Linked DNA regions of Homo sapiens. The protein of the gene in region 4 interacts with the protein of the main gene of each other region in a pairwise test. Each region holds a gene or a part of one and is shown on either strand. Other genes may lie near its edges. The genes, in order: GRIPAP1, SNAP23, KRT35 and TBC1D30.

The links.
Region 1: the proteins of TBC1D30 (region 4) and GRIPAP1 interact in binary tests that used the Homo sapiens proteins (3 or more experiments, as listed by UniProt).
Region 2: the proteins of TBC1D30 (region 4) and SNAP23 interact in a two-hybrid assay, tested with the Homo sapiens proteins (one study listed by IntAct).
Region 3: the proteins of TBC1D30 (region 4) and KRT35 interact in binary tests that used the Homo sapiens proteins (3 or more experiments, as listed by UniProt).

Annotation. Positions count from the first base shown.
Region 1 is NC_000023.11:48,978,189-48,985,669, reverse strand, and holds part of GRIPAP1 (GRIP1-associated protein 1), read left to right. Parts: intron 1-267; coding exon 268-402; intron 403-1,799; coding exon 1,800-1,895; intron 1,896-2,229; coding exon 2,230-2,442; intron 2,443-2,577; coding exon 2,578-2,691; intron 2,692-3,797; coding exon 3,798-3,875; intron 3,876-3,978; coding exon 3,979-4,074; intron 4,075-4,197; coding exon 4,198-4,254; intron 4,255-4,355; coding exon 4,356-4,455; intron 4,456-7,234; coding exon 7,235-7,365; intron 7,366-7,481. UniProt on the Homo sapiens protein: Regulates the endosomal recycling back to the neuronal plasma membrane, possibly by connecting early and late recycling endosomal domains and promoting segregation of recycling endosomes from early endosomal membranes.
Region 2 is NC_000015.10:42,505,426-42,512,906, forward strand, and holds part of SNAP23 (synaptosomal-associated protein 23), read left to right. Parts: intron 1-6,407; 5' UTR 6,408-6,421; coding exon 6,422-6,478; intron 6,479-7,481. UniProt on the Homo sapiens protein: Essential component of the high affinity receptor for the general membrane fusion machinery and an important regulator of transport vesicle docking and fusion.
Region 3 is NC_000017.11:41,478,134-41,486,470, reverse strand, and holds the start of KRT35 (keratin, type I cuticular Ha5), read left to right. Parts: upstream 1-5,319; 5' UTR 5,320-5,373; coding exon 5,374-5,844; intron 5,845-6,689; coding exon 6,690-6,772; intron 6,773-6,967; coding exon 6,968-7,124; intron 7,125-7,475; coding exon 7,476-7,637; intron 7,638-7,984; coding exon 7,985-8,110; intron 8,111-8,337. Other genes in the region: KRT36 (keratin, type I cuticular Ha6), read left to right, coding at 1-95.
Region 4 is NC_000012.12:64,820,082-64,827,748, forward strand, and holds the start of TBC1D30 (TBC1 domain family member 30), read left to right. Parts: upstream 1-4,565; 5' UTR 4,566-4,798; coding exon 4,799-4,952; intron 4,953-7,667. UniProt on the Homo sapiens protein: May act as a GTPase-activating protein for Rab family protein(s).

The DNA.
Region 1 (7,481 bases), on a different chromosome or scaffold from region 4:
TTGTCTCTGACTTCTTTCTGGCAGCACTATGTAAGTTTATCCACGTGGCAGCACAGATCTGTTCTCTTACTGTTGTGTGGTATTCCATTGTATGAACATACCACATTTACCCATTCTCTTCATTGTTTTTCTGTTTGAAATTTCCTCTCTCTTCCTGGTTCTCTTCCCACCTCCCTCCCTGTTTCCCTGGAACTAGGGGGCTCATACCCTGTCCCTGGCCCCTGGGGTCCCTTTCACTCTACTTCTCATCACCACTACTTTCTCCAGATCCAAACAGCAAAGACCCAAGAACTGAATATGCTCCGGGAACAGACCACTGGGCTGGCAGCTGAGTTGCAGCAGCAGCAGGCTGAGTACGAGGACCTTATGGGACAGAAAGATGACCTCAACTCCCAGCTCCAGGTAACACCTTTGGCTCTGGCCTGTCTCTTCCTAGTTCCCTAGTAATGGCCCAGTGAAGTCCCCAGTAAGGTGGAGTGGGAAGACTGGAGTCAGGAGGACCTAGGTTCCAGTCTGGCTCCCTAACTTATTAGCACCTGTGTGTTCTGGGACAAGTCATTTCACTTCTCTGAAACTGAGCCTCTTCAGTTAGTTAGGATATCAATTCTTTTTCATTTTTTAAATTTTAATTTAATTTAATTTTTTTTTGAGATGGAGTCTTGCTCTGTCACCTAGTCTGGAGTGCAGTGGCGTGATCTCGGCTCACTGCAAGCTCCGCCTCCCGTGTTCTCGCCATTCTCCTGCCTCAGCCTCCCGAGTAGCTGGGACTATAGGCGCCTGCCACCATGCCCAGCTAATTTTTTGTATTTTTAGTAGAGACGGGGTTTCACCGTGTTAACCAGGATGGTTTCGATCTCCTGACCTCGTGATCTGCCCGCCTCGGCCTCCCGAAGTGCTGGTATTACAGGCGTGAGCCACCACGCCCGGCTCCTTTTTTTTTTTTTTTTTTTTTTTTGAGATGGAGTCTCACTCTGTTGCCCAGGCTGGAGTGCAGTAGCGCGATCTCAGCTCACTGCAACCTCCGCCTCCTGGGTTCAAGCGATTCTCCTGCCTCAGCCTCCGGAGTAGCTGGGATTACAGGCGCCTGGCACCACGCCCAGCTAATTTTGTATTTTTAGTAGAGACGGGGTTTTACCATGTTGGTCAGGCTTCTCAAACTCCTGACCTCAGGAGATCTACCCGGCTCAGCCTCCCAAGCAATATCCATTCTGATTCCATAATAGAAACCAGAATAATAGTAGATTAAATAAGATACAAATTTAGTTCCCTCTCATTAAAAGTCCAGGTAGGTTATTCAGGGATGGAATGATGGCTTTCCAGTCATCTGTGACCCAGGTTCTTTCTCCATTGCTGTTCCTCCACCTTCAACACAAGACTTTTATCTTGGCATCCAAGACGGTTGCTGAAACTCCCCGACCATCATGTTTGTATTCTATCTGGAAGGAAGGAGGAAAGGGGCAGGGAAGAGTGTGCCCCTTTCCTTTAAGAGCATAACCTAAATTACACTCACCACTTCCACATACAGAAATAAATCACATGGCCACACCTAACCATAAGGGAGGAGGGGAAACATCTGCTAGACAGCTGTATGCCCGATGATAAATTTTATTGCTAGGGAAGTAAGGAAGAATGAATACTGGGGAGCAACTAGCAGTCTCTGCTATATTTCCTATCCAGAAATTGAGATCACAATACCAACTTTACCAGGGAGAAGGGAGATGGTCTACCAGATGGTCCTGGGTGACTAGCACCTACTGGATGCTCTTTATCAAACTCTTTCCCTTTGGTGTCTGCATTAGGAGTCATTACGGGCCAATAGTCGACTGCTGGAACAACTTCAAGAAATAGGGCAGGAGAAGGAGCAGTTGACCCAGGAATTACAGGAGGCTCGGAAGGTAGGGGAACATGAGGGTTGAAGGGAGAGGATGGGGGGTAGGAATTGGCTCAGTCCATGGGGATGGGAGGAGGTGATATAACCAAACATGTGGGGATAGGAGGGAAAGGAAAATTGACTGGTTTCTGGTTGACCAGTTTCTTGGCCAAATCCATGAGAGTGGGAGGGGAAAGAAAGAAAGTGACCAGTTCTATAAGGATGGGTGAGTGCCTTAGCCAGTTCAGTGGGGATGGGAGGGAGTGGAGTTTGGCTAGTTCCTTGGGCATGGGAAGAGGGTTGGAGGCCTTTTTTCGATGTTGTGGAAGGAAGTTGACTGCCATCGTCCTGGCCCCCAGAGTGCGGAGAAGCGGAAGGCCATGCTGGATGAGCTAGCAATGGAAACGCTGCAAGAGAAGTCCCAGCACAAGGAAGAGCTGGGAGCAGTTCGTCTACGGCATGAGAAGGAGGTGCTGGGGGTGCGTGCCCGCTATGAGCGTGAGCTCCGAGAGCTGCATGAAGACAAGAAGCGTCAGGAGGAGGAGCTCCGTGGGCAGATCCGGGAGGAGAAGGTGGGTGGGTAGATGATGATGCCCTTCTTCCTCTAAAACCTGGGAACCACAGCGTTGCTGATAGGCCAGTGGGTGGCATGCATCAGGTGCCCGCTCCTCTGCCTTCCTGGCCCATGACAGTCTGCCCCATCCCAGGCCCGGACACGGGAGCTGGAGACTCTCCAGCAGACAGTGGAAGAACTTCAAGCTCAGGTACATTCCATGGATGGAGCCAAGGGCTGGTTTGAACGGCGCTTGAAGGAAGCCGAGGTGAGTTGGTGATGCCTGGTGAGGAACAGAGGCTGATTGGGGCCCTCATGTCAAACCACAGAAGCAGGAGTGGTCAGGCCCTGGAACTTCCCGAGATTTTCTGGACTTAGGGATATCCCCACAGTCCCCTGGCTCAATAGCAGCCCTCTGGAGTGGATCAGGGGATGGCCATCAGATAGGACAGACTGTCACGTGTTAAGGCTGCCCTGCCTTTGTGCAAATTTGGAAAGGCACCTCTTTCTCCTGAAACTGTACTTCTGTCAGGAAATTAATGCAATACACTGATGTTATTGAACAAGAACCTGCTGGGTGCGGTGGCTCACGCCTGTAATCTCAGCACTTTGGAAGGCCGAGGTGGGCGGATCACTTGAGGTCAGGAGTTCAAGACCAGCCTGGCCAACATGGTGAAACCCTGTCTCTACTAAAAATACAAAAATTAGCCGGGCATGGTGGCTGGCGCCTGTAATTCCAGCTACTCAGGAGGCTGAGGCAGAAGAATCACTTGAACCCAGGAGGCAGAGGTCGCAGTGAGCTGATATCGTGTACTGTACTCCAGCCTGGGTGACGGAGTGAGACTCTGTCTCGGAAAAAGAACCTTTGTTGCCATTTTCTGGAAATCTCATAATACACTGAAAGGCATTGTCATGTAGCAGTGAAGAGCACAGGCTGGAGCCAGTTGTTTGTCTAGGTTTGAATCCTGGCTGGGCCATTTCCTAGCTGTGTGACCTTGGGCAAGTTATCTGACCTCTCTGTGGCCTGTTTTCATCAATGGTAAAAAGGGGGTAACAATAATATCTACCATCTAGGTATTACGGGAGGATTATAGAAAATGAGTTAATATATGTAAAACCCTTAGAACATTCTTGGCATGTAGTAAGCGCTATGTTTTGTTAAATAAAATAAAATGTAAATGCAAATCTAAGTCAACCATGCGAATGGTGCAACTTTAGATGTGACACTTCAGCATATTGCCTAAGGGCGTGTGGGGTTCCCTGCAGGAGGGTCATTTCTGCATACCTCTGGGCCCCCATTGCAGTCCCTCATACCCCTAACTGGGCATGATACCTTCTGGGGGGCTGTGGCCAGACCTGGGACTTGTCTTGTAGGAATCCCTGCAGCAGCAGCAGCAGGAACAAGAGGAAGCCCTCAAGCAGTGTCGGGAGCAGCACGCTGCCGAGCTGAAGGTGCCTCTCGCATGATGGTGTTCCTCTCTCCAGACAGTGACGGGCCCTCCTGGGAGGACAGAGGCTTCCCAAGCCAATGCCTAAGCTGCTTTCTGCTTTGCAGGGCAAGGAGGAGGAGCTACAGGATGTACGGGATCAGCTCGAGCAGGCCCAGGAGGAGCGGGACTGCCACCTGAAGACCATTAGCAGCCTGAAGCAGGTCAGTGGTCACTGCACAGCCCCAGACACACCCCTGATCCTCAGCGTACAGGAGGGGCAGGGAGGGAGCATGCTTCAGGCAGCCCTTCCGGCATCTACCAGCCATGCCTGCTTTCTCCCACAGGAGGTGAAGGACACAGTGGATGGGCAGAGGATCCTGGAGAAGAAGGGCAGTGCTGCGGTAAGACAGAGCGGTGCCCAAGCACGGCTCCCTCCTACCTGTAGCCTCCCTCCTATGGGCCCACTGGGCCTCAGTCCTCATGTTACCCCTGTCCCCCACAGCTCAAGGACCTCAAGCGGCAGCTGCATTTGGAGCGGAAACGGGCAGATAAGCTGCAGGAGCGACTGCAGGACATCCTCACTAACAGCAAGAGCCGCTCAGGTGAGGGACTAGGACAGGGAGAGGAGGCTGAGGCATGGGGGAGGTAGGGCCTGGGCCTGCAGGCTGCAGGTTAGTCCTGCATCTTCCTCAGCTGTGCTTTCCTGCTTCTGTCGCTCTGGAACTCCATCTTTTACCTTTTCTCTGTCTCTCCTCTGATTCTTTCTCTGCATTCTCTCTTTATTTCTATCTTTCTCTCGTTTTTGCCCTGTCTCTTCTCTGTTTCTGTCTCTGCCTCTGTCTCAGTTTGTTCTCTCTCTTTCCTCTATGTTTGCCTTTATCTCCTTGCTTTCTTTCTCTAGTTTTCTCCTTTTCTCTCTCTTTTTTTTTTTTTGAGACAGAGTTTCGCTCTTGTTGCCCAGGCTGGAGTGCAATGGTGTGATCTCGGCTCACCGCAACCTCTGCCTCCTGGATTCAAGCAATTCTCCTGCCTCAGCCTCCTGAGTAGCTGGGATTACAGGCATGCACCACCACGCCCAGCTAATTTTGTATTTTTAGTAGAGACGGGGTTTCTCCATGTTGGTCAGGCTGGTCCCGAACTCCCGACCTCAGGTGATCCGCCCGCCTCAGCCTCCCAAAGTGTTGGGATTATAGGCATGAGCCACTGGGCCCGGCCCCCGCCCTTTCTTTTCTCTGTCCCTTTATCTCTTCCCGCCACTCTGTGTCCTCTTCGTCTCTTCTGTTTATATCTCTGTCTGTCTCCTCACTGTATGTACTACATTACACACTCCCACACCTCACTTGGCATTTCTAAATCTATTGTATACAATCTCTCATTCTATAAATCTCCCTGCTCAAGTACAGGGTCCCTGATATAAAACTCCCTGAGTCTCTGCCCTCTAGAAGCCCCCAGTTGAGCTACGGAGACAGACTTATACATAGTCAGCAACGCTGTGGTGTTTTCATTATACAGCTAATCCAATCTGTTATTTCTGCCACTTCAAGCAGAAGACACACACACACACACACACACACACACACACACACACACAACTTTAGTTGCTTCAGCCTTTTTTAAGACGGGGATGGCCTATAAATACATTTAAGTAAGTAAAATGCAGTGATGGCTCTGGTGCATCTCTTAGATTACAGACTCAGAGAAAACTTGGTCCCTTATTCCCCCACTCGGGATACCTACGGATCCCCACTCAGTCACCCCACCCTTGCCAGAGATCCTCGAGGGCTTTAAGTGATGTGGCAAAACAGATGTGTATCTCTCACCAAATCAATTTCTCTCTGAGGCACTCGGTCTCCTGAAGTAACCTTTCTTTAAAAAGGAGTTTTGTTTCTGTTTTATCACAGATGAATGTAAGAATCTTGGGAAAGGTGTAATCCCAGCACTTTGGGAGGCCAAGGTGGGTGGATCACCTGAGGTCAGGGGTTCAAGACCAGCCTGGCCAACACGGTGAAACCCCGTCTCAACTGAAAATACAAAAAATTAGCTGGGTGTGGTGGCGGGCGCCTGTAATCCCAGCTACTTCGGGAGGCTGAGTCAGGAGAATTGCCTGAACCCAGGAGGCAGGGGTTGCAGTGAGCCGAGATTGCGCCATTGTACTCCAGCCTGGGCGACAAGACTGAAACTCTGTCTAAAAAATAATAATAATAATAATCTTGGGAAACGTTACAATCGTATACCATACATTCAATACATTCACCTTGTCCATTAGATTAAACTGAGATTTAGGTGCGTGGGTACGAGAGCCTGCTTGCATTTCTTTTTTTTTTTTTTTTTTTTTTTTGTTAGACGGAGTCTCGCTCTGTCGCCCAGGCTGGAGTGCAGTGGCGCGATCTCGGCTCACTGCAACCTCCGCCTCCCGGGTTCACACCATTCTCCTGCCTCAGCCTCCCAAGTAGCTGGGACTACAGGCACCCGCCACCACGCCCACCTAATTTTTTGTATTTTTAGTAGAGACGGGGTTTCACCGTTTTAGCCAGGATGGTCTCGATCTCCTGACCTCGTGATCTGCCCGCCTCGGCCTCCCAAAGTGCTGGGATTACAGGCGTGAGCCACCGCGCCCGGCATCTTTTTTTCTCTCTGTCTCTGCTCTGGCTCACTTCTTTCACCAGGGTCTCAGTTTCTATCATCTGCTCTGGCTTTCCATCTCTGGCATTTTCTTTCTGCAAGTGGATGTGCCCTGTGCCCTCTCTAGCTGTCTTCCTTTCTCTGAACCCTGTGTCCAAGTGTGTCTGCCACTTGAGACCCATGTGTACCCATGTCGTTCTCTTTCTCCAACCTCTTCCATTTTCTCCCTCTCATTTTGTATGTGTTTCTCCAGAAAGGCAGCTCTTTCTTTTCTTTCTGTTTTTTTTTTTTTTTTTTTTGAGACAAGAGTCTCACTCTGTCACCCAGGCTGGAGTGCAATGGTGCGATTTCGGCTCACTGTAACCTCCGCCTCCTTGGGTTCAAGCGATTCTCCTGCCTCAGCCTCCTGAATCGCTGGAATTACAGGCACACACAACCACACCTGGCTAATTTTTGTATTTTTAGTAGAGACGGGGTTTCTTCATGTTGGCCAGGCTGTTCTCGAACTCCTGACATCAAGTGATCAGCCCACCTCAGCCTCCCAAAGTGCTGGGATTACAGGTGTGAGCCAGTGCGCCCAGCCTCAGCTCTTTTTTCTGTCTCTGTCTCTCCCTGTCCTCCTGTCTGCTTCTGCCTTTCCCCATGCCCAGGTGTCTCTCTTTCCATCTCTGTTAAATCTATTTCTGCCTCTTCCTGCTGGTTGCTGCCCTGGGACTCAGGGGTATTGGGGCTCAAGTTTCTCTTCCCTCCACCACCCAGGCCTTGAGGAGCTGGTTCTCTCAGAGATGAACTCACCAAGCCGGACCCAGACAGGGGACAGCAGTAGCATCTCCTCCTTCAGCTACCGGGAGATCTTGCGGGAAAAGGAGAGCTCGGCTGTTCCAGCCAGGGTAAGGGGAAAGGAAGAACCTACAGCTCCAGCTTCTCTCAACCCAAAAATCTGAGAACCCCTCCCCTTTTCTCCTCACCTAAACCCATCTCCTACTTTGGGCGCAGCACACATATT
Region 2 (7,481 bases), on a different chromosome or scaffold from region 4:
TGAAGCCACATGGATCTTCCAAGGCCTTATTTAAATTCCAGGGCCTTTTTTCTGTGTATTTCTTTCCAAGAAGCTCATTTACTTTTCCTTTCTTCTTTTCTTCTCTTTTCTTTTACTTCCTTTCTGCTTGCATTTTTTTTTTTTTTTTTTGAGACGGAGTCTTGCTGTTGCCCAGGCTGAAGTACAGTGGCATGATCTCGGCTCACTGCGACCTTTGCCTCTCGGGTTCAATCAACTCTCCTGTCTCAGCCTCCTGAGTAGCTGGGATTATAGGTGTGCATCACCACGCCTGGCTAATTTTTGTATTTTTAGTAGAGACGGGGTTTCACCATGTTGGCCAGGCTGGTCTTGAACTCCTGACCTTAGGTGATCTGCCCACCTTGGCCTTCCAGAGTGCTGGGATTACAGGCGTGAGCCACCGCACCTGGCCTCTTGCTTGCTTGTTTTCTTATCTCCTCCCTTCCTCCCTCCCTCCCTTCCATTTCTTTTCCTTCTTTCTTTTCTTTTCTTTTTTTTTCTTTCTTTTTTATTTTTTTTGAGACAGAGTCTTGCTCTTGTCACTCAGGCTGGAGTGTAGTGGCATGATCTCGACTAACTGCAACCACTCCCTCCCGGGTTCAAACGATTCTCCTGCCTCAGCCTCCCGAGTAGCTGGGACTACAGGCGCCCACCACCACACCTGGCTAATTTTTGTATTTTTAGTAGAGATGGGGTTTCACCATTTTGGCAATGGCTGGTCTTGAACTCCTGAGCTTGTGATCCGCCAACCTCGGCCTCCCAAAGTGCTGGGATTATAGGCGTGAGCCACTGTGACCGGCCCATTTCTTTTCTTTCTTTGGGGTCTTGCTCTGTCAGGCAGGCTGGAGTGTAGTGGGGATCATGGCTCACTGCAGCCCTGAACTCCCAGGCTCAAGTGAACCTCCTAACTCAGTCTCCCAAGTAGCTGGGACTACAGGCACTGGTCACCACACCTGGCTATTTTTGTTGTTACTTTTTGTGGAGACAGAGTCTTGTTGTGTTGCCTAGGCTGGTCTCAAACTAGCCTCAAGCCGTTTTCCTACCTCAGCCCTCAAAAGTGCCAGAGTTACAGGCATGAGCCGCTGTGCCTAGCCAATAGACTTCTTTTCATTTTCTAAATTAATGTAGATTATTTTCAGCTTCTGAAATAATAGAAGACAGTTGAAAACCATGATTACTGTGGTCTATTTCTCCTTCAATTTAACTGTCTTCTTTGAGTCTGTAGAAGAGATAAAATTTCATGGTCTTATAGAAAGCATCTGAAATTTTGAAATGAGCCATCATATAGGATTGCTTGACCTATTTTCCAATATTCAGCAGCTCTCATATGATCTATTGTTTGTTAAGGGGGCGGTGGATACAGTCAACAGAAAAAACTTTTTTTTTTTTTTTGGAAACAGGGTCTTGGTCTGTTGCCCAGGCTAGAGCACAGTGATGCCATCTCGGCTCACTGTACCCTCTGCCTCCCAGGTTCAAGTGATTCTTGTGCCTCAGCCTCCTGAGTAGCTGGGACTACAGGCATGCGCCCCATGCCCAGCTAATTTTTTGATTATTTGTAGAGAACGGGTCTCACTATGTTGCCCAGGCTGGTCTTGAATTCCTGGCCTCAAGCAGTCCTCCTGCCTTGGCCTCCTAAAGTACTGGGATTACAGACGTGTGCCACCACTCCCAGCTCCAGAAAGACTCTTTATCAGACCATGAATTATACTTAATTTGCGAGTAGATCCCGACTTGAATAATCAATCTGCTCTTTACTGACACAGCCGCCTTGGGTAAGTTACCTAAACTGAGCCTTAGTTTCTCCATCTGTAAAATAGTATAATGAAGATAATGATGTAGATAAATACTTAGTAGGGTATCTGGTGCCTAAGAGGTACTCAGTGAACTTTTCTTTCCCTGCCTAGGTTTAAATTAGAAAAGAAAAAGGTCAAATTAGGAGTCTTTTAGTAAGCCCAAGTGAACCATAGCATGAGAAATAGGGTGTAAAAGCACTGAGAAAAATCTTGCATTTTCCTCTGAAAGGCACACTATTAGCATAGTATAAGTTCCCAGCAGCACTGGAAAAATGACACAAGTATTTAATAGATTAGATTAAATCTGAGAAAAGTACGTTTAATGGCATCTTTGTATCAACTGATGTTTTATTTTTCATCCCACCCCACCAGTTCTCTTTTCTGTAATATTCTGGGTAACCTTTTCCTGATTCCGTAAGGAAAATGTCTGCAGAGAATAATAAATATGAGTAAGGCTATGTAGCTAATTATAGGTTACATTCTCTCTGACTCGTCTCAGCAAACTTACAAAGACCAATAAGAACTTGAGGAGTATTATTCCTTGTCTGTCTTTGTCCTTCCCCTTACAATTCTACTTTGACTCTGTTACTTTCATATACAGTTGACCCTTGAACAACATGGGCTTGAACTGCGTGGGTCCACTTATAGGTAAATTTTTTTTTCAGTAAATACAATCAGCCCTCCGTATCAGCAGGTTCCACATCTATAACCAAATGCAGATAGAAAATATGGTATTCAGCCAGGTACGGTAGCTCATCCCTGTAATTCCAGAACTTTGGGAGGCTGAGGTGGGAGGATTGCTTGACCCCAAAAGTTTCAGAAGTTTGAGACCAGCCTGGATAACATAGTGAGACCCTGTCTCTATAAAACAGCTTAAAAATTAGCCGGGCATGATGCATGCACCTGTAGTCCCAGCTATTCAGGGGGCTAAATGGGAGGATTGCTTGAGCCTGGGAGGGCAAGGCTGTAGTGAACCTGATTGCACCACCGCTCTCCAACCTGGATGACAGAGTGAAGCCTTGCCTCAAAAAAAAAAAAAAAGAAAGAAAGAAAGAAAAGAAAATACGGTATTCATACATGCAAAACTCCCGTCTACAGAGGGCGGACTTTTATATCTGCAGGTTCCTCAGGGCCAATTGGTATCCACAGGCAGTACTGAATCCAACCCTCTGAGCGACAGCCACACTAAACTTGTGCTCAAAACCCTCAAGAACACAGAGTAATCTTAGGCAGCTGCATCCTGGCGTTAGCATGCCAAACTTGGGAGTAGATATCTGTTACTTGTCTTGCGTGTTGTCTGGTCAGGGAAGAAAAAAATATTAAGCAGAACTTCGAGTTCACATGGAAAGGATGTGTCCTTCAGAATGACCTCATTGCGATGTCAGGGGTGATTCCTCACGTTATCCATCTCCCAGTTATATCTGCTTTCTTTTTTCTTTTAAAGAAGGCAGCACAGAGGTCAGGAGTGCATTCACTCCTAACTCTGGAGTTTTGCTTTTTTTTTCCTAGGAAGCTAGCAAAGACTGACTTGTAATTGGCAATAATCACCTCTAGGAATAGAATTACAAAATTACATAATTTGTGATATTTGGGCTTCCTTACCCCAGAATGTCTCCCGACCCACAGGATACTATATCTGAAAACCTCACTAAGGGTGCCTTTTCCAGGCACTAATGGATTAGTGTATATTATTTTTCATATTTTCTTCTCTGTCGGGCATTGAGGAGTTACACATGACAGGAATAGATAACTTCAGAGCATTACTGCCTGGGGAGGGCAGGCTTTGGAGAGGTATCTCGGTTGGGGCTTTAGGAAGTGATGGAAAAGCATGAGGCTACCTGGGCAGATGTGGGGTATTATAGAAAGGAAAGGTGTGCAAAAGTGTGGAGGTGAGAGGGTACAAAAAATAATCTCCATTTACTTTTTGTAGTTGCAAATAGGAAAGAGTGACAAAAGAGGAACAGTAGCATGGACATGTGTATGTATGATAAAGCTTAAGACTCAAACAATTAGCAAATTAATAAAATACCTGGTTCCTTTTATGCTTGTATCTAATGAATGATATCTTTATATCTTGATTATATCTTAGTGTGGAAACTTTTTGCCTGAAGCACAGTCTATGGCAAGCAAGATAGAAACTTAAATTTGGAACTTAAAATGCTTTTTTTCATGAGCACTAATGGCTTTAATCAAGGCTCAAAATCTTTTTTTTTTTTTTTTTGAGATGGAGTCTCGCTCTGTCACCCAGGCTGGAGTGCAGTGGCACAGTCTTGGCTCACTGCAACCTCTGCCTCCCAGGTTCAAGCAATTCTCCTGCCTCAGCCTCCCGAGTAGCTGGGATTACAGGCGCTCACCACCACTCCCGGCTAATTTTTGTATTTTTAGTAGAAACGGGGTTTCACCATGTCGATCAAGCTGGCCTCGATCTCCTAACCCCGTGATCCATCCGCCTCGGCCTCCCAAAGTATTGGGATTACAGGCGTGAGCCACTGCGCCTGGCCCTCAAAATCTTAAACCATAAAACAGCTATGACAGTAGAATTATAAACAAGGCCAGGCACGGTGGCTCAGGCCTGCAATCTGGGCACTTTGGGAGGCTGAGGTGGATAGATCACCTGAGGTCTGGAGTTCGAGATCAGCCTGGCCAACATGGTGAAACCCCATCTCTACTAAAAATACAGAAATTAGTGGGGCGTGGTGGTGCATGCCTGTAATCCCAGCTCCTTGGGAGGCTGAGGCAGGAGAATTGCTTGAACCCAGGAGGCAGAAGGTGCAGTGAGTCAGGGTTACACCACTGCACTCCAGCCTGGGCAACAGAGTGAGACTCCATCTCAAAAAAATAAAAAAAATAACATGATAGTAGTGGTTCAATTAAAAACAACTGAAAAGATTTAAATTTTTTTGTTTGTTTGTTTTTTGAGATAGGGTCTTGCTCTGTCACCCAGGCTGGAGTGCAGTGCCATGATCTTGACTTACTTCAGCCTCAACCTCCTGGACTCAAGCAATCCGCCCACCCCAACCTCCCCGGTAGCTGGGACTACAGGTGTGCGCCACCATGCCTGGCTAATTTTTGTATATTTGGTAGAGATGGGGTTTTGCCATGTTGCCCAGGCTGAACTCCAACTCCTGAGCTCAAGCCATCCACTCACCTCAGCCTCCCAAAGTGCTAGGATTCCAGTCATGAGCTACCACACCCAGCCAAAAATGACTGAAAAGATTTATATGTGATCATATCATACACTTGCAATAGCAGTTTTTGGTTTGTGGCTCTAGTGATTCTTTGCGAGCTTTGTGCTACTGTTACATGCAGCTTTGTTTCTAAGAGCCATGTAAATACTTTGAGAGTACACCCTGTTTTTCTACTTATTTGTTCATTCAGCTATTTTTGGAGTATCTACCATCAGATCCTATTAGGTGTTAGAGATACAAAGATAAAATCTCTGCCTTCCAAGAATTCAGTCCAGTACATTCTTGGGGAATTAAGTTTTCTGCTTATCAAAGAGTATATCCATGGCAAGGTTTCTCACCTCAAATTGACATTTTGGGTCAGATTATTCTTTGCTGGAGGGCTTTCCTGAAGAGTGTTGTAGGATGTTAAGCAGTTTCCCTGCCTCTACCTACTAGATGCCATTAACCAGCCCCATCACCTGGCCCAAGTTGTGACAATCAAGCAACTCCAGACATTGCCAGATTCCTGGGGTCAAATCTGTAATAAGAACCAGAGTTTATCTGTGTCATTGACCGTGAGTTTTGATAAATGAGTTTTGAGAAAATTCATACAAAGCTAGCAAATGTAACAAAGAACCTAGATCCGTTGCACAATGCTTGTTATTACTCCACATGACTTCTCAAAGAGGAATTAGATAACAGCCGTGCTGAGTAACACCTACGAAATGTTTTATTTTTTAGCTTGGATGTCTATGAGATCTCCTTCTGAGTTACTGTGTATAGGAGAATAATTGTTTGGTTTCTTAGGGACTCCAGTAAAACAACAAAACAATATAAGCCACTGGAGGGGAAGAGTCTAATGCATAATAAAAACCTTAGTCTTTTCCGAGCTGTTTGTACCAGCATTTCCCTTTTCTTGTTAAGAGTGAAAGTATTTTCTCCAGTGAGTGTCCTGGACAACTGGCATATTTAGAAATGTTTCCTGTGTTCTTCAGGCACATAACTTCAAATTTTGTTACTTTACTAAATTGGACTTTTCTTCACCTACTGCTTTTCCATGTTCAGACAACACATGAAGAACATTGAACAACCAAAAATTCACTTTAATAGTCTTTTAATGCTTGTCTTCCAGTAATGCCTTGCTTCTCTAAGTAGAGGATCCACTTTCCTGTTGGAAAGAGTACTTCCCTAGAAGTCCTAAAACCTGTATTTTAGGTTCACCCTTGGCACTCTTATTAAACATTCATTTAGCCTCTCTCGGTCTTGATTTCTTTACTTGTGGTAGACTAATAGATATAGAAAGAGGTTCTTTTATCCTGTTTTCCTGATAAGTTCCTAAATTCCATAAATCTACACTTTTTGCTCACACAAACTTTTATATATCCTTATTCTTATACAATATCCACATTTCCATTTCTGTGCCTAATAGAGTTTTGATTCATCATGGATAATCTGTCATCAGAAGAAATTCAACAGAGAGCTCACCAGATTACTGATGAGGTAAATGTTTTACCTAAAATAAGTAAATAATTCTATTTCAGTTTTCATATTGGAGGAGTGAGAGAGCCTTCTTAGGGACATTTTGGCCTCTTCCTAGTCCATTAATATCAAAGAACACATTTGCTCCTTAGTGCCATTGCTGGTTTTTATTTTCTTTTTAACTCACCAGAAAACTAAAGTGAAAACAATTTGTATGATTTTTATTTTTTAGGTAATTATTAATATTACTTAAGTGTAACAAAGATACTCTACTATGTATTTGAGAAATGCTAGACTTCTATTTAACAATTTCCTAATATCTGTAATTTACTTAGATTTCTACCTACATTAAATTTTTATTCCCATGAACTTCACCATCCAAATATTCTCTTTTTTAAAAAAACTTTTTCTTTCAACATCACACTGGAAGTCCTTACACATTTTCTCTTAAGGAGCGCCTGAAAATAACTAAAAATGTAGTGATCAACTTACTTTTTTTTTTTTTTTTTTTTTTGAGACGGAGTCTCACTCTATTGCCCAGGCTGGAGTATAGTGATGCGATCTCGGCTTATTGCAACCTCTGCCTCCTGTGTTCAAGCGATTCTCCTGCCTCAGCCTCCTGAGTAGCTGGGATTATAGGTGTGTGCCACCACGCCCAGCTAATTTTTGTATTTTTAGTAGAGATGGGGTTTCACCTTGTTGGGCAGGCTGGTCTCAAACTTCTGACCTCGTGATCCGCCCACCTCAGCCTCCCAAAGTGCTGGGATTATAGGCTTGAACCACCACACCCGGCCATTGTTTTGTTTTAAAGGGAAGGATAGGCTGGCAATTCTTTTTGTTTTTTCCTTTAATGGAAACAGTCTCACTATGTTGTCTGGGCTGGTCTTGAGCTCCGGTACTCAAGAAATCCTCCTGCCTCGGCCTCCCAAAGTGCTGGGATTATAGGCATGAGCCACTGTGCCCGGCCTGAGCTGGCAATTTTTAAAGATAGAATAGCATCATGAATTTGGCCTGTGATCAGATT
Region 3 (8,337 bases), on a different chromosome or scaffold from region 4:
CCCAGGTTGGCACTCAGATCCGCACCATCACCGAGGAGATCAGAGATGGGAAAGTCATCTCCTCCAGGGAGCACGTGCAGTCCCGCCCGCTGTGACAGCCCACTTGGTCCACCAGGGCAGGGCCCTGACCACAGGAAGGAGGACACCCCTGTGGCTCCTGGAGGCTTAACGACCCTGCCCTTCTCTAGAGGGGTCCCCCTACGCTTAGCAGGTTTTTCTACCAAAACACTCCCCGTATTGTGTTTCCGGACTTAACTGTGCTTTTACGCCATGCAAAACCAGGTTTCCTGGAAATTTACCCAATAAAGTGTGTTCTCCTGGCATAGCAAACTCAACCCTGGCTGACTCTGTTGATGCTCATGTGCTCGTGTGGTTCATGGGGGTGTCTGATCAGGGGCTGCAGTATAGTTGTGGGGTTTCCATTTAGGTCTATCTTCTCGGGCTCTGAGTGGGAGGCGGTGGCAGGGTGATTTGAAGTATTTAATAACAAAGATGCCTCAGAGGCTGGCCAATGAGAACAGACACTGACCCAGTCTGGATGGGTGCGGCCATAGCTCTCAGCTTGGCCCTGCCTGTGAGTAGACACCTTAGGGCGGCCCCAGAAGAGGCAAAGGCTCCAGAGCCAGTCTTCATCCATAGCCCGACCTGGATTCGGTGGCTATCTCTCTTTTTCTTTCAGCTTCTCCTCTCTTGCCCAGCTGCTGTCACCCTGCTGCCTGATACTGGGGATGGTTAAGGAGAGGGGGTCCCAGGAACAAGCAGAGAGGGCCAAACACTAGGCAGCCATCCTCAGCCAGCCATGCCAGGGAGGGCAGTCAGGGAGAGCAGGGAGGTGAAGGTGGAGGGCAGGTGAATCCATGTCCCAACAAGGCACATAGGGCCAAACTGAAGGGTGCCAGGGACAGTGGGGTGGGGGTGGGTGCTCAGACATGGAGTCTGGGGAGAGGACAGCCAGGCTTCACTGTGGAGCAGAGTTCAGAGCCCTGGATTCCACTGGCTGAGTTAGGCAGGTCTGCAGGTGGGGCCTAACTCTGCCAGCTCTGGACACCCCTCTGATCAGAGAAGCATGGCCTGGGAGAGGTCTGAGGGCCTCACGGTTGGTTCCTTTGCCCCTGCTCCAGTCTTCACTTGAGAAAACAGGCCCAGAGAGGGCAGTGACTTGTTCCAGGCCACAGAGCAGTGAGTGGCAGAGACCTGGCCATCACCTGGCTATTCTGACCCTGGCTCTGGAGCTCTTCTCAGTACAATTTCTCTCTCTCTCTCTCTCTGTCTCGCTCTCTGTCTCTGTCTCTCTTCCCTCCTCCCCCTCTCTTGTGCTCACTCTCCTCTGGGCTCTCCTCTGGGTCATGGCCAAGACATCCATGACCTGGCTCTGCCTCATGTCATCAGCTACTTGCTGCTAAATGGGACTCTTCAATCACTTGCTGAGCAAGCCAGAGGTGCAGCAAACTTATCAGACAACAGGAGAAGACGTGCATAGGTAGCATCAGAGCATCCTGCACTGAGCCCGACTCTGCCACTCTGTGCTATATGCCCGGTTATGTCATGAGACCTCTCTGGTCTCAGCAGGTTCATCTGTGAAATGGGGCTGCCAGGAGGTTCTGATGAGACAGTGTGTGTGTAGCTTCCAAAAAGTGGTAGCTATCAGTGTTGCTCTTACTACAAATGCAGAGTCCCTGGCTTCAGAGTGTTGAACAGGAACCCCCACTGCATGGGCCAAGTGCTTTGCTTTGTATCTGGCAGGATGCTATGGTGAGGGCTGTGCTGCCAGCAGTGTCCTTGGAGCTGGAGAGTGAACCCAAAGGCCTCAGCCTCAGAGGATGCACCTAGCTTTGGGCAGGGGGGGCAGTTGGCATGGTTCTCTCACCTGCCCTGCCCCTTCCCTCTCACTGCTCCACTCATGCTCTAGGGCCTAAGTCTGCACCCCTGACCCTGGCCTGAGGCCAGTGTGTGACCAGGCGTGCACAGAGAGCATTGTACCTCTGTGCGGAAACAGGCAGGGGTCCAGGAATGGAACGAGTCTCCGGGAAACAGCTGAGCTGCCTTGTCACTGTGGATGAACCACACAGGGCATGACCTGATAAGTAATCACATCATCAGCACCTTGTGTTGTACAGTGCTTTCCCTTTTTATGATCACTCTCCAGTTTACAGGGCACACTCATAGCCTCATCTGATGCACGCAATCAGCCCTGTGTGGCTGTGAGCTCTTTATTTATTCATACTTGCCTAGCTTTTAATTACATTGTCCAGAGCATATGTATCAGTTAGGAAACACCTCCTATCTCAACCTCACACACACCCTTAACTGAGTTGCAATTGAAATCACTGACCAACAAGCAAACCAGAATTCAACAGTGTTGTGGGGGTAGGTGGCGACTGGTCTAAAGTCACACAGCAGGCGGCTGACTTAGGAGCCTTCTTAGGTCTTTGGGCTCCTATTTCATTGATATGGAGAGAGATATAGAAAACATTCAATAACATTTCCGCAGAGTGAATATGATGTTTTATTTCAAGGCGGTATGGTTTTTCTGATCCTTTTTGTACTTTCCAGATATGCTATCTGACTGCCTTTCTCATTCACATATACACATCAATTAATCAACAAAGAGATAACAACGGAACATGGCATACACAGCTAATCCAATCTTAAGGCTCAGGCCTATCTAGGAAGGAGCAGGGGTGGCGGAAGCGGCTGGAACAAAGAGTGGATAACAGGCACAATTCCCGAGGAGCTCACGTCCAGCTGTGGAGACACCTCGCCCCCTCGCTCCCAGCAACTGCACTGGGATAGCAGGAGCGGGTGTGGGCAGGGTTTCAAGTTTTGGGGAAGAGGAGAAATCACTGAGGGCTGGGGTGACCAGGAAAGGCTTTGGGGCAGATTTGGATTTGATGGGCAGAAAAAGGAGGAAGGAGGGCAAAGGGCATTTTAGGGCCGTATTTAGTGTATCCGTGGCATGATCTGGGGACAGCCTGGACCACATCTGAGCAGAGTGCAAGGATCCTGTAAGGAAAGTTACTAGGAATGTGCTAAACAATGTTAGTTCTTGCTGATAAGGGGTTCTAGATAATCATGTCATTTAAGAAAAGCATGCTAAAAAGGAACAGAAATAGATCAGACCAATTTACAAAATACCTTAAAACAGCTTGAAAAATATTACATATATGTTTTATAAAGTTATCTAAAAATCTTATCAAGAATTTTTTAGTCACAACTTTAGCACTAAATTGGTTTATGAGATCCATCTCCCTTGGGCAGAATGGCTTTTGGCCCAGAAAACACTTTGTTCTTGGCCAAAGGGGCTGGTTAGTCTGGACAGGTGCTGCTCACCTACACAGAGATGCCGGATCCCCTTCCATCTCTGAGTCTCAGTTTCCTCATTTACAAAAGTAGGAATAGTAGGCTGGGTGTGGTGGCTCATGCCTGTAATCCCAGCACTTTGGGAGGCTGAGGCAGGCAGATCACGAGGTCAGGAGATCGAGACCATCCTGGCTAACACGGTGAAACCCCGTCTCTACTAAAAATACAAAAAAAAAAAAAAAAAGAAAAATTAGCTGGGTGTGGTGGCGGGCACCTATAGTCCCAGCTACTCAGGAGGCTGAGGCAGGAGAATGGCGTGAACGCTGGAGGTGGGGCTTGCAGTGAGCTGAGATCGCACCACTGCACTCCAGCCTGGGCAACAGAGTGAGACTCCATCTCAAAAAAAAAAAAAAAAGAAGTAGGAATAGTTAAGATTGACTGTGTTTTCCTTTCCCCGCTCCCTACTCTCTTTTGTTTCCTCCCATTCTTTCTTTCCTTTCTTAACACAATTCACCGTGGGAAAAATCACTTAATTAATTAATTAATTCATAGACATCTAGAAGCCCTGCACTGTGCTTAACACTACAGAGATTTAAAAAAAAAGTACAAGGTCAATCCTTGCCCCCATGCTTACAGTCTCCCTGGGAAAATAGGGCTGAAACACAAGACAATCAGAAGACGTCAGTTAATTGGAGGCCAAGAAATCTACCAATAGTCACTGCCTTGGGCATTCAGAGCTGGGAGGGCACAGCAGGGCTGGAGCAGGGGCCAGACTTCGGGGGAAGGCCTGGCCAGGACTGGGCCCTTAGAGGCAGTGGGGTGGGCCTGTGGTTTGGAGCTGCAAGGCCTGGGCTTTAGCCTCCCTGGGAAGCCTGTGTGGACCTTGGGTAAGCCATTTTCTACTCTGACCATTGTCTCCTTCTGTAGGAGTCAGCACCTTTCTATCCACGACTGTGTTGGAGGGTGTGTGTGAGGCCTTAAAGAAGATAGCATGCCTTGAACAGTTGTACAGATGCTTTTTCAGCTGTGATCTGGGACAGGCTCCTGAAACAGTCCAAGCCTCCTCTATTTAATGGGCTATTGGTGATGCCAATCTCATGAGTTTGTGTGAGGACTGAATAAGAGAATGCATAGAGACAGATCAGCGTGGGGGCTGGTGGGTACTAAATGCTCAGTGAATGATGGTTGCTACCATCAGCCGGGTTATTGATAGGGCTGTGTGAAAAGAGCTCCAATTCAGGCAGCCAGAAGGAAGGGCTTCTCCATTTCTCAACCAGGGCTGGGGAAGACATGCCCTCCTAGATGTCATCATGGGCAGGTGTCCAATTAACTGATCTCTAGGCATTGTGGCTAGAACTTAGGCTCTACAACCTGCACAGACTTCCTGGCAAGGGAAAGAGTAGGGAAGTGTCCATCAGGGCTCTGCAGTATCTAGGGTGATAAGCTGTCCCATTTTACCGAGGACTGAGGTTTCCCTGGCATATGGAACTTTCGGAACTAAAGCCAGAAAATTCCTGGGGAAACCAAGAAAATTGGTCACCTTAGCCATATTTTCTGGGCCAATTCAAGAGCCTTCTGTGTCTCCCTGGCTGCAAGACCCCTGCCTTCCTGCACCAACCAAGTTTACCCTTCCATCTTCTGGGAGCACCCCAGAGACCTCCTCTACTCCCTCAGGCCAATAAAAGAAGTCAAAGTTGGAGAAAGTCAAGACAGTGGCTGAACTCCCATGCTTGCTTAATGCGGAGGCTGAGGTCTGGGCTCAAATGACAGGTCCCTTTGAAGAACTGACAGGGACTTGGTCTTCCCAGTGATGTGGGGTGGTGGAGATGAGTCTTGACATAGTAATGGGGCTCCTATTTTATGAGACTGGTAAATTTTCACAGGAAACTAAATAACAGGTTAATGAGGGGTTTTAATAGAAAGTGGTGTTAACTTTAATGAGGAGAAAACACTTTGTAAAGGCCAACCAATGCCCACTGGGGCAGAGATATAAATCTGGGGTAAGGAGCTGCTTCTCTGCTTTGGGGTGTCTGGCCTCAGAGACCTATCAATTGCATCTGAGTTGCAGGGGCCATGGCTTCCAAATGCCTCAAGGCCGGCTTCTCTTCTGGGTCTCTCAAGAGCCCAGGAGGGGCCAGTGGGGGCTCCACTCGTGTGTCCGCAATGTACTCCAGCAGCTCTTGCAAGCTTCCAAGTCTCTCCCCTGTGGCCAGAAGTTTCTCTGCCTGCTCAGTGGGTCTGGGCAGAAGCAGCTACAGGGCCACCAGCTGCCTCCCTGCTCTCTGCCTCCCTGCTGGAGGCTTCGCTACCAGCTACAGTGGGGGTGGGGGCTGGTTTGGGGAGGGCATCCTCACTGGCAATGAGAAGGAGACCATGCAATCCCTGAACGACCGCCTGGCCGGCTACCTGGAGAAGGTGCGTCAGCTGGAGCAGGAGAACGCCAGCCTGGAGAGCCGCATCCGTGAGTGGTGTGAGCAGCAGGTCCCCTACATGTGCCCTGACTACCAGTCCTACTTCCGGACCATCGAGGAGCTCCAGAAGAAGGTAAGAGGTTCAGAGTGGCTTTGGATTCCCAGGAACTTTGTGTCACCAGCATTCATTGGTAGTTCTGTTCCCATAGGGCATGTTGGAAGTCACCAAGCATGTTCATCTCTGTGGCCTCATTTGCTCCTCCCAATAACCTTAAGAGGGAGGTATCATTAGCCCATTATACAGTTGAGAACACTGAGATTCAGGCTGGGTAAGCGACCCAGATGGCAGTTACTGGAGCCAGAGCTTGAACATCAGGTCTATGAATGAACTCTGTGACCTTTGGTGGTATTGCCCAATCCTCTGAGTCTTCTGAGTTTTCATTTCCTCTTTTATTTAAAGTCAGGGGATTGGGTTTGATGTATTTAGTGCAGTGCAGTTCAGGCTTCCCATAAGTAACTCAGGGAAGAAAATGCCTGTCAGAGAAGTTTCTTTCTTGCCAAGGGCCCATATCCACTTCTCGCCTGGCCCAAAGTTATAGCTGGCTCCTGTGAGGGACCATTTATGACCAGAGAATCCCGGGGTATGTTGTTGGCAATGAAATGCCCTGGGCCCCCAGTAGGCCTGGGAGACAGGGAGATTGGAAGAAGCCTCATTTCATCATGCCAGGCCTTTCCTGTTGCATTTTCATGCAGCTATCTAACCTGAGTAACAGGTCACAGATACACTGCACTGGAAGAAACCCTGGACTTTCCATAGTTGATCCCTAGAGCCTGCCCATAACACTCCAATGCACATGGAGTAGCAGAGGTCTAGGATGGGTGACTTCCTCCTTCCAGAGTCAGCCCTTGTCAGCTTTAGGGAGCTCCAACAAGTGGAATGTCCTTTCTTGCAATGAAATAACTTCTTCATATCTCCAGACTCTATGCAGCAAGGCTGAGAATGCCAGGCTGGTGGTGGAGATTGACAATGCCAAATTGGCTGCAGATGACTTCAGGACCAAGTGAGTTGTCCTGCTTGTCATGTGGTTGGGGGCTGCTAGAACTGGACACAGGTGATGCCTGAGCTCAGGGTTTTGGCTGTACTCTGTCATTGGGGCATAAAAGCAGGACTCACAGCACCTGGACAGTCTGAGGGCAGGCCTGACTTAGATGCAAAAAGGAAATGCAGACTCAGGTGCCCTGTTCTATGCCTGCAGGTATGAGACGGAGGTGTCCCTGCGGCAGCTGGTGGAGTCAGACATCAACGGCCTGCGCAGGATCCTGGATGACCTGACCCTGTGCAAGTCTGACCTGGAGGCCCAGGTGGAGTCCCTGAAGGAGGAGCTGCTCTGCCTGAAGAAGAACCATGAGGAGGTGAGCATGGGGGAAAAGGTGAACACGGCACAGCAGGTGAGCATGGGGGAGGAGGTGAACATGGGGAGGAGGTGAGCATTGGGGATGAGGTGAGCATAGGGGGAGGTGAACATGAGGGAGCAGGTGTGCATAGGGAAGAGGAGGTGAGCATGGGGAGCAGGTGAGCATAGAGAGCAGGTGAGCATGCAGAGGAGGTGAGCATGGGGAGGAGGTGGGCATGGGGAGCAGATGAGCATGGGGAGGAGGTGAGCATTAGGAGGGGTGAGCATGGGGAGGAGGTGAACATGAGGAGGAGGTGAACCTTGGAGGCAGCCCTCTGGGAATTAGTACTCATCCTGGTCTGTGCTATAGGAAGTGAACTCACTGCGCTGCCAACTTGGTGACCGCCTCAATGTTGAGGTGGACGCTGCCCCACCTGTTGACCTGAACCGAGTTCTGGAGGAGATGAGGTGCCAGTATGAAACCCTGGTGGAGAATAACCGCCGGGATGCTGAAGACTGGTTGGACACCCAGGTAGGTACCTGGAAACAGTCAGTGCAACAGGGGTATGTGGTGGCTCACATGGAAGTGACCCTGGGGCTCTGAATCAAGAAATCTAACTTTGAGTCCCATCTCTGTTTTGACCTTGCTGACAAGGTCAAAACAGACCCACTTCAATTGACCTTGCTGACAAGGTCAAAACAGACCCACTTGGGCAGGTTGCTGTCCTCTGAGCAACAATGCCCTCCAGTATAAAATAAATGAGTGGGACTGGGGAATCGGGAATGTCTTTCTTGGCTCATGATTCTAACCGGCCTCTGTAGCTCTCTGAAGCCAAGTCCCTGGTGTGGCTGACCAGGTTCTGTGTGTGTATGTTTCAGAGTGAGGAGCTGAACCAGCAGGTGGTGTCCAGCTCAGAGCAGTTGCAGTCCTGCCAGGCAGAGATCATCGAGCTGAGACGCACGGTCAACGCCCTGGAGATTGAGCTGCAGGCTCAGCACAGCATGGTGAGCCCCAAGGCAGGGTGGAGCTGCCTCTGGACCAAGCCGAGGAGCACACAAGCTCCCCAGCTTCCATGCTTTGACCACACAGGCGGACTCCAGGGGTCCATGTTCTTGAGCACCAGGGGTTCTCTATGCAGAAAAGAGGGAATGAGGGACCAGCTCCAGTCACAAATCCCCCAGTGGTAAAGGACAAGAGACCTGTAGCAACTGACATGTCCAGGCAGTAGGTC
Region 4 (7,667 bases):
TCCAGGGCCTTTTCTCTTGGTAATTGTCAGTCCCTGAAGATAAGCACGTAGGCCCTTTTTATTTTAAGACTTTACTGTTAAACAAAAAAAATAGCAGCATTAGGAAATCACAGGTCTCAGACCCACTTCCCCTTCTGGAAGCCCCTTGGGACATAGTTTTTATTCCTTGTGTTGGGCTTTCTTTTCTTACTGACTTCTTCCCCCTTCTCCCATTAAAGGAAAAGTTCGCTCTCAAGGAAACCTCATTCCCAGCATGTAGGCCTGAAGATGCAGGGTATGCCGAATGGTCCATACTTTTTTTTGTTTCAGCCTGGGAGCTCACATCTGTGGGGGATGTCCTCAGGTTATTAGCTCTGTGACATTCGGGGCATTTCCTCAAAGCCTTCATTTTCTTTAGCAATCCAAATAACATTATCTCATCCAATGTGAAGTGTTCATTAAGCCTTCCTTCCCCTAAATTCAGCATAAGTCATAACCATTGTAGACTGTGGCAGTGTATAATTTGCCCAAATGTGAATTCACTATTATTTGATTGGTAAAGCTTGATTAGTAAAGAATAATGGTAAATTGGCCTGGCTCCTGAGATTCTCAGGCAAAGTCCATGCTGGCTTGAGTTCTCTGTAAGTTGACTTTAGATGACATCTTTCACGTTTGTAAAACAATATTCCAGACATGAAATAAAAAACTGTGAGTCACACAATCAACATAATACTAGGCTTGGGCCATCGCTGCTTTTAGAGTATTGTGTTTTAGTGCTCATGTAATTATCTGTTTGCTATAAAAGTTGGCAGTCCTGACTTTCCTCTCCAATGTAAACAAAATAATATTATCTAATTCCTTTGCTGTTTATTGCCATCATAGCAGAAACTCTTAAATTTTATTTTAAAAACAGAGTTAGATTTTCCTCGTAATAGATCTAAAAGAGGTGAAATTGAATGTTCCTTTTGCAAGCAAACAAGCTTCTGTCACTACTAGTAAAGAAAAGTATTACAAGTAAAGAAGAATCTAAAGAGAGGTCTTTTTATCAGTCATGACACATGGGTGAGTTGACAGCCTAGAGTCTAGATGTCAGCTTTGGCAGTCTGGAAATTTGGTGTCTTCAGGTTACTGACTGGTAAGTGAACTCAGGGGTATTGACTGCTATTAACTGGTCAGTATATTCTCTGTGCTGCAGCAGAGTCTATATGGGAAATCAAATGACAATCCAAAGTTTGCTTGGTGAGCATGACGTCAGAGCCAAAGGGAGTTGGATGGTCTGAGTGGCATATGTCACAGCCCCAGGGGCAGGACGTCCTCCTCTCCACTCCAGAGACAGTGTTGTAGAACAGAGCTGATTGCTTGTCCTCTTGGCTTGCCTAGTGATGGAAACCGAGCATGAATAGCCTCTCTTGTTAAAATAGAACACAAAACCCTCTAAGATTTGAGCATATGAGAGGTCTGGAAGACGAGACTGTGCATGCAGTTACCAACTTGTCCTGCTGGATTTTCCCTCTCCTGCCAGTTCCCTCTCTTTGACTTCGGGTGTTCATCACCATCTTCAGCCCCAGGGTATACTGTGCCCTCTAAAAAACTGGTCAAAGGGAAGCATCAGACCTCTTCCTATGGCTCTCAGTACAACTGAGATAGGCTGCAACAGCCAATGAGTGTCTTATTAAAATTAATACAAAGCTGAAGGATACAAACATGTACCAAAACTGTAAAAAGTTGATGGTTGATGGAGGATAAATTTCTGTACCGGAGCTCGCAGCAAAAGGTTGGGAAATTTAAGCCAAGCAATTAGTCATGACCAGCTTAAACAGTGACTTCATTTTCTAAAGTGATGCCTTTTCAAAGAGTACTGCCCTTTTGAAAGCATCTTTACCTCTGCCAGGCAGCTACAACTGAATAGCTTGCATGTCCTTTATTAGCCTGCTTTACTTTTGCAGATGGCTCATCTCATTTTTAATAGATTCTTTTACAGCTCATTCTTAGGGTTGCACCATTTCTGACATTGTCCTCAAATTCTGGGAAGCGTCATAGGAATGCCTTCTTTTTCTGGCTTGTTTAGGCTATCTTTATGAAGGCATTTAAAAATATTCAATATTTTTTCAATCAATAGCAGCCATTTTTTTTTCTTTTGATACAGGGTCTTGCTCTCTCACCCAGGCTGGAGTGCAGTGGCCAATCATAGCTCACTGTAACCTTGAATTCCTGGGTTCAAGTGATCCTCCTGCCTCAGCCTCTCAAGTAGCTAGGACTACAGGCATACACTACCACACCTGGCTAAGTTATTTTATTTTTGCAGAAACAGGGTCTTGCTATTTTGCCCAGACTAGTCTTGAACTACTGGCCTCAAGTGATTGTCCCACCTTGGCCTCCCAAAGCACTGGGATTACAGACCTGAGCCACAGCACCTGACCCAGCAATTAATTGCTTTTTGTTTTTGTTTTTACTTCTGAGGCAGGGTCTCACCATCACCCAGGCTGGAGTACAGTGGTGCGATAATGGCTCATTGCAGCCTTGACCTCCCTGGCCTCAGGTGATCCTCCCACCTCAGCCTCCTGAGTAGCTGGGCCTACAGGTGTGTGCCATCATGCCCAGCTAATTTTTGTAGCTTTTTTTTTTTTTTTGTAGAGATGGGGGTTTGCCATGTTGTCCAGGCTCAGCCATTGTTTTTCAAGTTCAAATTGTTTCATCTTTGGCCAATAGGAAGGAGCCTATTTATGTGACTCTTGTGTCTTTTTGACTTGACCCCATTAATTGTGAAACATTTCCTTTCTTTTTGAGCTCATCAAAATGTTTCAGGGTCATCTTGTACTTTTTCTGTCCCAAACCTGGAATCAGTCACTCCTCAAAGGAGCCTTAGTTCCTTTGAGTGGGGAATGGTTTTTAGAGACCATAACCTGGGTGCTGTGGGTGTTCATTGCTGCTGAGTTGTCCTTACTTCTAAACCTATTCAATGAATGTATGTATTTTTTTGAAAAGAAAAAAAAATGAGTTCATACTAGTGTTTCCCATATAAATATATAATTGTAATATTTTAAAGAAAACTTAATTACTTTGGTTATACACATATTTTCTATTACACTGAAAACATCTTGGCTCCATTTGATGTTAGCATACTTATTTATTTGCTTTATCCTGTAGTGGATATAAGAATTTAAGAAATATGAATATTATTAATAACAATAATACTACTGAATGAAATGTAAGGTTTCTTTGCAGTTTTATTTGCTCTGGGAATATGTACAACTGTTGATGTACAGTCATAATATTGTGTTCTATGTCAACTTAAGAGAGAATTATTTTTTTCTGTGTTCTTATGCTATAAGTGGGATAGTCCATTAGGTTGATTTGTTTCCATTAATTTTCAATTGTTAGGGTTTTCTTTTACAATTTAAAAATAATTTATTCATTTATAGTCAGGGACTAGGTCTGTTGCTCAGGCTAGAATGCAGGGGTGCAATCATAGCTCACTGCAGCTTTGAACTCCTAGTTTCAAGACATCCTCCTGCCTTGACTTCCCAAAGTGCTAGGAATACAGGTGTGAGCCACCGTGCCCAGACTATTTTATGTATTTTCAAATTTTATTTTTATTTTTATGTCTTTTTAAGAGATGGGGTCTCGCTATGTTGCCCAAGCTGGCCTCAAACTCTTGGGGCTAAGCAATTTTCCCACCTCAGCCTGCCAAGTAGCTGGGACTATAGGCATGCTGTTCCATCATCCTGGTTTTTTAAAAATTTAATTTGTTAATATTATTAATATAGTGTTATTCCAGAGCCAAAACTACAGGAGGCACATCAAGAGAGGACTCAGTTTTCCATTCTTGTCTCCTCCACGATGTTCCTTCTCCTATACAAGTTTTCTAATTTGTTTTTGGTTTATCCATTTAGTGTTTCTTTTTATAAATATTAGCAAACACAAGTATCTTTATATCCCCCCCCCACACCCTTTCTTTCATCCATTTTAATGGTAAATAGTCTATTGGTGAATATTGCCGTTTGAGAATGACTTTTTTTTTTTTAAACCATAATGATGGGCAATAGTTCAGAACTACTGAAGTCTGGCTGGAGAGATGAGGAACATTACTTTTTAATACTGCTTGAAAAGAGAACACTTTTTTTCTGGAAGCCCATTTTTCTAAAAGAAACAATAATTTTTTTTTCCTTCATTTTCTCCGCGCCTCTCTAATCTGCCAGGAAATAATTCAACGCAATTCGGGCTGAAGCGTGTGCCTCGCCGCCTGCGGTTGGGTCATGGCCCCTTCTGAGACTGCTCGGAAGTGGGAGAGGATGCTTGCCCTTACGGGTGTTCTGCCCCTGAGACTGGCGCCCCTTGGTGCTCCCTCTGTTCCCTCCCAGATCTTGGGAGAAGCACGGACATCTCTGTTTCTGCTTTTGGTCCCCGAACGCAGTTACGCGCCCACTGGCTCCCTGTCTCTGGCGCTTCTGGGCACGGGGGAGCTGGGGCGGCCCCGCCTGCGCACGGCGGTGCCGGGATTGGGGGCGGGCACGCCGCCTCCGTCTCCCACGCGCTCGCTCGCTCGCTCGCTCCCGCCCTCCCCGCCTCGAGCGATCTCCTGCCTCAGCCTTGCAGGCTCCGCACTGCAGATGCCTGCTGGCTTCCCTGCGCTCGGCGGCTCCCGCGGTGCCCCGTAAGTCCCCGTGACCCTCCAGCACCAGCCGGCTGTGCGCTCCCTGCTCCCACGGGCCGGTCAGCCGCAGACACTCACCCAGCTCCGCGAGCTCAGCCGCTCAGCGAGTGGGGTAGCGGGGACCGAGACGGACGGTAGCCGTGCCAGAGCCCGGGGCGCTCTCGGATGCGGCAGGACAAGCTGACCGGGTCTCTGAGGCGCGGGGGGAGATGCCTGAAGCGGCAGGGCGGCGGCGTGGGCACCATCCTGAGCAATGTGCTCAAGAAGCGCAGCTGCATTTCCCGGACCGCGCCCCGGCTGCTGTGCACCCTGGAGCCGGGTGAGGACCCCAGGGCTGCAGATGGGGCGCTGTAAAGTAGCGCCGGGGCTGCCCGCGCTTCTGCCTTAGCCTGACTCCGTCTAGGCCGGGGAGCTCTGGGGAAAGTCCGCGTGCCACCTGGTGCGGGGCACCGCGTTGGCACCTGCAGGGAGCGATTGGTCTGGAAGGGTAGAGGGCAGACGGGGGCCTGGGTGGGGCAGCGGCCACCCCAGGCGCGGAGAACCCGCTGCTTCCACCCTCTCCCCGCGGACCCCCACCCTGCGGCCTGTGTGCTCGGCTTTCTCCGCGTGGCGGGGAAGTGCGGGTGGCTGCCCGGGCCCTCAGAGGCCGCACCACCTATTGTGTTCCAGGCTCGCAGGAAGCCAGACCTTGCGAGAGGTGTGTGGGGGCGGAGAGTGGCACAGGTTTGACACTGCAGGTCGGAGGAGGAAGACAGTGGCTGCAAAGGCAAAATCGGGTGTTATTTTCCCAAGAGTCCCTTCAGCGTGAGTGCCGGGGTCAGCTCGAACTGGAGCCTGTAATTTGTGAGTGCGAGTGGGGAGCAGCAGGAGATCCTTTTCATAGGTGAGGTCCAGGAACGAGCCTGGTCGTGCTAGGCAAGGCCCTTCCCACTGTCAGCCTGTGTTTACCCATCCCTGCTTCTCCAGACTGCATAACTCCGTGTCGGCTCCATCACCCGGCATCCCTCCCCGGGATTTTAAGAGCCTGGCCCTAGCGCGGGCTCCTGGGCACGGAGGTTTCTGGCAAGGAGTGGCTGCAGAGGGAGTTGGCTGTACTCTCACTGGTGCTTGGCGCTCACCTGTTCCCTGGAGTGGCACCGGCTGCGTTCCAGGCGGGTTCACGGTCCCCGGCCCCCGCCCCCCAGCGCCAGCGCCTTGGGGACCTGCTGTAGAGCCGCAGGAGAATCGAGCTGCAGAGTCCCAAAGGGTGGGATGCGGCACTGCCTTTCCCAACCTCGTGGTTTCTTTGTTGTTCTCCCCTAGGAAGTGTCTAGTTGCAGAGGCTGTAGTATTTATTCACCATCTTCCTTTACCTCTTTTTTTTTTCTTTTAAATCTCCTTCCCACGTTAAAAGTAAGTGTTTTGTATTTCTGAATCCGGAATAGCTGTGATTATCAGATGAAACATAAACCTTCTCTCTGCCCGTATTCTGTTAGAAGAAAAGAAAAGTGGGGTGAAAGTGACCTGGTTTAAGCTTTTGCATGCAGGCGGCGAATCAATTTCAGTTAAATCCTCTTGCTCATTTTTGATCATGAGAGGATAGTTGTGGTTTTGGCCAACTAACCCCTGCTGGGTTTCACTATGAGAAGGCAATCGGCATGATGCCCAGCAGGTGCCCCGGAAAAGTCAGAAGAGCATATTGGTCAGACATACAGGGAATCCTTGTAGTGTGGCAAGAATAAGTCAGCGCGGGACCGAATTTCCTGGTCTTTGTTATCAAGCAAACGTCATGATTATACGCTCCTCCATTCAGCACCTCGCGTCCGGACAGCAACCTCACTTGTTTTCAGCGTGCCTTAAAGCGTGCGCTGGGCTGGAAACACTCCCGTGGCCGTTGTTATCACCGTTCTATGTTTGGGCAGGACTTCGTTTAAACCACCTCAGAGAGAGGCGGATCCATGTGGTACTTAATATTCCTTCGGAGAAAAAAAAAACTTATCTATCCAGGCAGAGTATGGTTATGGCCCTGAAGCTTTAAAAAGAAATATCAAGGCATTGATTGGATGCCTGGGATTCTCTGCCACAGCTTACTTTGGAAACCTAGGACCCAACTCAGGAATTTACAGCGCTCTTCCAGGGTTCCAAGAACACCTGCATACTGATATGGGCTTGCAAAAATCAGATACATCTCTTTCCAGCTTCTTGACTCCGTGTATATATATATTTTTTAAAAGACCAGTCTACTTGATTACTTACTATTATTTCATAAATTCTGAAGATTGCTCCTATTCATACCAACCACTAAGAAGTGGAAGTTGTGGAGAAGTTTTTAGTACACCTAATCTACAATCAACAATCTTAGAAACAAAAATGCCATCATTTGACTTTTGAAATTTGTAAAACTTAATGTTATTGATAGTATTTGGCATTTCTTGGTCCTTGAACTTTTGGGCAATAATTCCTTTAAAAAATGGGGCCGGGTGCCGTGGCTCATGTCTGTAATCCTAGCACTTTAGGAGGCTGAGGCAGGTGGATCACTTCAGATCAGGAGTTTCAGATCAGCCTGACCAACATGACGAAACCCTGTTCTACAAAAAATACAAAAATTAGCTGTGCGTGGTAGCACGTGCCTATAATCCCAGCTATTTGGGAGGCTGAGGTGGGAGGATTGCTTAAGCCCAGGAATCCAAGGCTGCATTGTGCTATGATTGTGCCTGTGAATAGCCACTATACTTCAGCCTGGGTGATATATTGAGACTGTATCTCTTAAAAAGAAGAAAAGGAATTGAGACTGAGATAGGTTAGATAAATTGTTTCAGTCTAGGAACCAAGTCGAATGGAGGACTGTATGACTCCAAGCCTGTGGTGTCATTTTTTGTTTTTGTTTTTGCTTTTGTGGTACTCCAGGCATCTATGTAAACCACCGTCATATGTAGTAAGGCACTTTCTATTGCTGTAGGGTATTTTCCTATTTTAAGAATCAATATGCTTACCTTTTGGCAAAATTGACTAAAATTTAGTAAAGATACATACTTTAAAAAAAATTGTGATGATT